Linked DNA regions of Homo sapiens. The protein of the gene in region 2 interacts with the protein of the main gene of each other region in a pairwise test. Each region holds a gene or a part of one and is shown on either strand. Other genes may lie near its edges.

What was found.
Region 1: the proteins of EXD3 (region 2) and PLSCR1 interact in a two-hybrid assay, tested with the Homo sapiens proteins (one large-scale study listed by BioGRID and IntAct).

What each region holds. Positions count from the first base shown.
Region 1 is NC_000003.12:146,527,552-146,531,135, reverse strand, and holds part of PLSCR1 (phospholipid scramblase 1), read left to right. Parts: intron 1-2,304; coding exon 2,305-2,522; intron 2,523-3,584. UniProt on the Homo sapiens protein: Catalyzes calcium-induced ATP-independent rapid bidirectional and non-specific movement of phospholipids (lipid scrambling or lipid flip-flop) between the inner and outer leaflet of the plasma membrane resulting in collapse of the phospholipid asymmetry which leads to phosphatidylserine externalization on the cell surface.
Region 2 is NC_000009.12:137,346,662-137,350,245, forward strand, and holds part of EXD3 (exonuclease mut-7 homolog), read right to left. Parts: intron 2,874-3,584; coding exon of another isoform or gene 2,871-2,873; coding exon 2,708-2,870; intron 2,622-2,707; coding exon 2,449-2,621; intron 1,578-2,448; coding exon 1,410-1,577; intron 1-1,409. UniProt on the Homo sapiens protein: Possesses 3'-5' exoribonuclease activity. Required for 3'-end trimming of AGO1-bound miRNAs.

The sequences.
Region 1 (3,584 bases), on a different chromosome or scaffold from region 2:
TCAAGGCAGCTGTTCCTGCTCCTTCCCTTTTTCTCTTCCCATCTCAATAGCGACCTTTGGCATCTCTAGTCATAAAACCGTGGTCTCTTACTTGAAAGCATTTATCTCCAATTCTAATGAATCAATTAATTACACTGGTATTATAGCTCCCTAGAATAAGTGGGGATATAAAGTTGTCTCTCTCATTAAACAATGATGGGCAGGGATTGCATCTGTGTTTTCCATTGTAAATTCTAATGCTTTTCCACTCCTGAAAATTTTGTAAGATATAGATAAGACCATGGAACTCATTCTTCTGCTTAAATTCCTCCAGTACTTGCCAATCATAATTGGAACCAAATCCAGACTCCTTACTAAGGCCTCCTTTGATGAACAGCTTCCTGTTGCTTTGCTAACAGCCTTTCCTAGTCGTCTTCTTTCTTATGACATTCCTCTCTCTTTTACGCCTGTCAAATTCATTACAAAGTCAGAGGTATTCTATTTGCCTTTCTTTCCTCCTGAAGCATTTATCACTAATCTTCATATAAAGCTTTTCTCTTCTCATCTTTTAGACCTTGATATAAATTATATTTACCCAAAGTAACTGCCTCATACCCTGCCCTCGCTCGCATACATTCTCTCCATCACATCCATATGAATTTTTTTTGTTTTAAATGTGTTTTCTTTCTCCCAGAAGTTGACTGTAAGCTCTCTGACAGCAGGCTGCCTCCTTGAGAATTGTATCCTCATATTCTACAACACAGCCAGTCACATTATGATCATTTGTAAATATTCATTCATCATAAAGGAATAAATTATAAAAGCTATATTTATGATGCATTATTGTGAGGTTTATTCTGTTTTTCTAAGCCTTATTTTTGAAGGGCAAATGAATTTTATCATAAATGATCCATTTAAAAGAATTTGTAAATTTCCTATTCTAAGTATTACATTTTGCATAGGCTTTAATGTTAAAATATTGAGAAACACAGTCCTTTGAAATTGTATTCCACTGCTATGGAATTGCTACACTGTGGACCATACAAACAGGTATATAAATCTTCATTGTAATCACACATTCGCAGAGAATATGAAGTACATTTACTGTTATTAAATTTCTGCCTCTTACAATTTTTTGCCATCCTTGTTTCTCAAATTATATTTTCCAGAGACCAAAGGATGTTAAATTGTGAAATTTAAATTTCTAACCTAAATATTATAATAGAATTTTATTTTAATGAAGAAGGACTTAGGAAAGCAATACATTATGGATTAAAACATAAGGCAAAGGATTAACCCAAGCAGGCATCTGGAATGTACTAAAAGAAATGACGTGTACTAAACGAATGGGCGCGGTGGCTCACGCCTGTAATCCCAGCACTTTGGGAAGCTGAGGTGGGCAGATCACGAGGTCAGGAGATCGAGACCATCCTGGCTAACACACTGAAACCCCGTCTCTACTAAAAAATACAAAAAATTAGCTGGGCGTGGTGGTGGGCGCCTGTAGTTCCAGCTACTTAGGAGGCTGAGGCAGGAGAATGGTGTGAACCCAGGAGGTGGAGCTTGCAGTGAGCAGAGATGATGCCACCGCACTCCAGCCTGGGCGACAGAGCAAGACTCTGTCTCAAAAAAAAAAAAAATGGAAAGAAAGAAATGACGTGCTTTCACCTTCAACAGTGGCACTATAATATTTTGGGCTGGACAATTCTTCATTTTTAGGGAGCTGTTCTGGCTCTTTTAAGATGTGTAGCAGCAGCCCTGGCCTCTACCCACCAGATGCAGTATTATCTTCCCCTCCAGTTGTGACCAAAAAAAGTCTGCAGATCTTGTCAAATATCCCTGGCAGAGAGGGGGCAAAACTACCCCCAGTTCTATACATATATTATAAGGCATTTGCTAGAATTTCAGAATTATCATTTTTCACAAGATACTTTGGCCCTAGAAATGCTGACTCAAAGCCATTATTTTGGGCCTTCTACCAATGACGTGTTTGTTTCCCTTGAAGGCTTGCCAGAATCTTTATGTAGGTGACTCTAGATCATGGTTATTTATTTTCATTTTCTCAGATATTAAAGCATATTTTCCTTCTGAGTTTTGAATGGTAAGGGTAAGGCTATTCACCGCATACTATCATCCAAATAGAAGTGGATGTGCAACCACAGATATTTCATTGAAAAATCTCAGAAAGAGAAAAGCGTATTAAACATCACAGATACAGATGTCTACGCTGAAATGTCAACTTATAGATAGATGGCATAACCCTAAAAAGGTTGACAATTCCATTTTTGGTGCAGTTACAAATCATTTCACTTGTTTGTATTTCAGGACCTCCAGGATATAGTGGCTACCCTGGGCCCCAGGTCAGCTACCCACCCCCACCAGCCGGCCATTCAGGTCCTGGCCCAGCTGGCTTTCCTGTCCCAAATCAGCCAGTGTATAATCAGCCAGTATATAATCAGCCAGTTGGAGCTGCAGGGGTACCATGGATGCCAGCGCCACAGCCTCCATTAAACTGTCCACCTGGATTAGAATATTTAAGTCAGGTAATTTCAAAGACACAAAATACTCATAAAAAACAGAACTGTGCTTCCAGCTTGCTTAACCAGATTAGCAAATGAATAATTCACCAAAGTCTGAAATAGCAAAACTGTATTTTCTGCTAACAGATTACTCTAATTCTTCTAGGTCTGGTTCAATTTTAAAGCAAAATACAAATGCCTTAGAAAATTGTATTTTCTGTTATCTTAAATACAATCTATGATAATGGCCAATAGCAAACATTTAATTAGCACTGTTTCCTGCCTTTGTTGTATGCCTGATACATGTATTAACTCATTTAATCCTTATTGAAAGTCTGTGATGTATAGGTGCTACATTTTTCAAAAGAAGAAACTGAGGTCCAGAGAGGTTATATAGCTCACTCTGGGGTGAGAACCTAAAGAGTCAAGACTGTTTTTTTAATCCCGAAACTTTGGTACTGAGCGAAGTGCTCTTTAGTCTCAATACTGAATAATTGCCTTATAATTTGGAAGAAAATTTAAATAAAGTTTATTGTTGAGTTTCAATAAGTGGCCCCAAACAAGGGGTTAATATTTTATGTATAATATGACTCACCTTTTTATTGTAACTAATAAAACTGCATTTTTATGATGCTGCTTTTGTTCTTTGGAAGACCTAATTTTATAAATGCCATTAATAAAGGAGTAAAAAGTCCTGGATTTTGTTGCACTAAATTATAATTAATCTCAGCAATAAGAGGTTTAACATTTAATTGGTGTTAGAAATCAGGTAGGTCAAATAGAAACAAGAAACTCTGTGTGTCCAGTCTATACACATACAAATATTCTTGTGATATTCAACCAGTTTTCATTTCATAAATCATTTCTTTCTTGCACTCTCTTTAGTAACTTAATTTCCCACAATGTGCTTAAGTGGCATAATCATAGGAATTTTTGGTCATTATTATATTATGCAAGAAATACATAGAAATAGATATTTTAAAAATCAGAGTCTCATAAAATACATAAAGGATGTTATCACATATGACAAAGGTTGATATTAAGTATGCTTAATACAAATCTGAAACTTGTAAAAAAAAATCTCTT
Region 2 (3,584 bases):
ACAGACGGTCGGTTTCAAGGCCCTCTAGGCTTTTCATGTTGTGATCCTCAGGACTCTCCCACCCTCCACTCATCCCCTGATTCTAAAACTACTTCCGCATGTTTAGCTGTGTGTTACACCAGCACCCCACTCCTGGTACCACAATCCACATTCTTTTTTTCTATTGTTTTGAGACGGAGTCTTGCTCTGTCACCCAGGCTGGAGTGCAGTGGTGCGATCTCCACTCACTGCTGCCACCTCTGCCTCCCGGGTTCAAGCAATTCTCTGCCTCAGCCTCCCGAGTAGCTGGGATTACAGGCGCCCGCCACCACGCCCAGCTAATTTTTGTATTTTTAGGAGAGACAGGGTTTCACCATCTTGGCCAGGCTGGTCTTGAACCCCTGACCTTGTGATCCACCCGCCTCGGCCTCCCAGAGTGCAGGGATTACAGGCGTGAGCACCCAGCCTCCATGTCATTTTTCTAATGCTGCTGTCACAATTTACTAAAAGCTTAGCAGCTTACAACATAGTTCTGTGGAAGTCCAGAAGTCCGGTGGACTCAACCAGGTTCTCTGCTCAGGGTCTCATGGCTGAAATCACAGTGTTCGCGACGGCAGGCTCCTCTTAGGAGACTCCGGGGAAGAACCTGCTTCTGGGCTTGGTCAGGTGTTGGCAGAATCTGGCTGCTTGTGGCTGTTGGACTGAGGTTTCCTTGTGCGGCGTCCTCCATCTTCAAGCCAACAATGGGACACTGAATCCTTCCTGTGCTTTGAATCTCTCTGTCTTCTGTGTTCCATTCCTGCTTTTTTTCTTTTTTTTTTAAGATGGAGTCTTGCTCTGTCAGCCAGGCTGGAGTGCAGTGGCGTGATCTCAGCTCACTGTAACCTCTGCCTCCGGTGTTTAAGCGATTCTCGTGTCTCAGCCTCCTGAGTAGTTGGGATTACAGGCGCCCGCCACTACGCCTGGCTAATTTTTCTATTTTTGGTACAGACGGGGTTTCACCATATTGGTCAGGCTGGTCTCCAACTCCTGGCCTCAAGTGATCCACCCACCTCGGCCTCCCAAGGTGCTGGGATTATAGGCATGAGCCACTGCGTCCGGCCCCATTTCTGCTTTTAAGGGCTCATGTGATTACACTGGGCCCACCCAAATAAGATAGACTCTCTATTTTAAGTTCAACTGATTAATAGTGTCAATTACATCTGTAAATTCCTTTTGTGGGACAATGAGGGCTGAGGCTGGGACCATCTCAGCCACTTGGCCCCCAACCGCTCCATCCTTGGCCACCCCGTCCTGTTCCCAGAGCCTGCCTGGCACAGCTGGCAGCCATGGATGAGCTGGAGGGAGGAGTTTGATGCTAGGGGTGGGCACACCTGTGCTAGGGGCAGCTGCACCTTGGGAGGACCCCAAGACCCTCCCCGCAAACTCACCTCGGCCGCCCTGCGGTGGTCTTCACCATTGCCCAGCATGCGTGCATCCACACCGAGACAGCGGAGGCTCCGTGCCAGCCCCTGCAGCATGTTGTCACACACCACACGGAAGGCCCTGGCCGGAATCTGAGGGGCAGCGCCCTCAGACACAGCCACAGCCACAGGGACCTGCAGTGAGGCCCTGGTCAGCAGTCCCACGGTCACCCCCCAGCCCCTCACAGCCTCAGAGAGCCAGGGCCCTGAGGCTGTGTGGCCAGCACTCTGTCTCTGTTTTATCTTCAAAAGATAAAACTGTGTGTGCTGTGCATAAAACAGCAGAAACGCAGACAAAATGCAGTGAAACCACCCCTGGGGGGCTCTAGTGCTCATGCTGGGGGGGCTCCACGTGTGTGTCTGGGGTGGCGTGTGTGCCCAGAGAGGGGTGGGGATCACGGGGAGGGGGCTAGATAGAGAGGGGTGGGGATCACAAGGAGGGGGTTAGATAGAGAGGGGTGGGGATCACGAGGAAGGTGCTAGATAGAGAGGGGTGAGGATCACAAGGAGGGGGTTAGACAGAGAGGGGTGGGGATCATGGGGAGGGGGCTAGATAGAGAGGGGTGGGGATCACGGGGAGGGGTTAGATAGAGAGGGGTGGGGATCACAAGGAGGGGGCTAGATAGAGAGGGGTGGGGATCACGGGGAGGGGTTAGATAGAGAGGGGAGGGGGAGGGGGCTAGATAGAGAGGGGTGGGGATCACGGGGAGGGGGCTAGATGCTGCCTTGGGCCATGGGAGGGGCCTGCCAGGCCAAGTATCAGGAGGGGACTGGGGCACTCAGGGGCACGGCTGCCTCCTGAGCAGTGACCCCCCAGGCAAGCGCAGCCCCCGTGACAGTCATGCAGGAGGTTCACCAGGACTTTGCTCCCCTCTCGCTCCAGGAGCTGGGCCCCCTCCACACGCTCTGACCCAGTGGCCTTGTCTCCATGCAGGTCCTTGGTTTATGGACAGGGATCTCCTTCCCCAAGAATGCTGACAAACGGACCCTGCGGGGCTTCACCCACCTGCCTGGGTGCGGCCGGTGCTGACGCTTTCTGCAGGCCGGGTGGCTTCCGTGCCCCTGGTCTCTCTCTGTGCCTGGGCCTCCGGCTCCCAGCCAGGTCCTCCGACAGGTGGAAGCGGGCGGGCTCTCTGCACAGGGCTTGGTGCACCTCCAGCAGGCAGTAGGCGTCGGCAGCTGTGTGGGGAGTCGGCCTCAGCCTCCCGGGACAGAGGGCGGGAGGGGCGTGAGGAGGGGTCACTCCCACCCGCCGCACCGCACACCTGCGTAGATGACCTGCTCCTCGCAGAGCGGCCTCCGGTCCCAGTTGGACAGCTGCTGCGTCTTGTCCAGGGCTGTGCCCAGCACCTGCTGCACCAGGAGGCTCAGGCCCCTCAGCTCCCTGGCCCTGTCCACGGCTGGGGCTGGCACGCTCGCCACCCGCATCTGCTAAGACAGTGCCCTGCAGGGTAACGCGTCTGGCCCTGGCGGCAGCACAGTCACCGTGCCCACTCACACCAGCCCTGCGGGGGCTCTGGAGGAGGCCCCGCCCCCTCCACCAGCGGCCCCCACAGCAGAGACGGGGAGAAGGAGCGGACACATCCGAGGAGAGGCTCCACGTGGGGGTCCCAGGCTGCAGGCACTGCACACCAGGGCCAGCTCCGGGGGCCCTGGTCAGCAGTCCCACGGTAACCCCGCCCAGCCCCTCACAGCCTCAGAGAGCCCGGGCCCTGAGTCTGTGTGGCCAGCTCTCTGTCTCTGTTTTATCTTCAGAAGAGGAGCACTGGGTGTGCCGTGCATAAAACAGCAGAAACGCAGACAAAATGCAGCGAAACCACCCCCGGGGGGCTCTAGTGCTCATGCTAGGGGCGCTCCACGTGTGTGTCTGGGGTGGCGTGTGTGCCCAGAGAGGGGTGGGGATCACGGGGAAGGTGCTAGATAGAGAGGGGTGGGGATCACGGGGAAGGTTCTAGATAGAGAGGGGTGGGGATCACGAGGAGGGGCTAGATAGAGAGGGGTGGGGATCACGGGGAGGGTTCTAGATAGAGAGGGGTGGGGATCACGGGGAAGGTTCTAGATAGAGAGGGATGGGGATCACGGGGAAGGTTCTAGATAGAGAGGGGTGGGGATCACGGGGAAGGTTCTAGATAGAGAGGGATG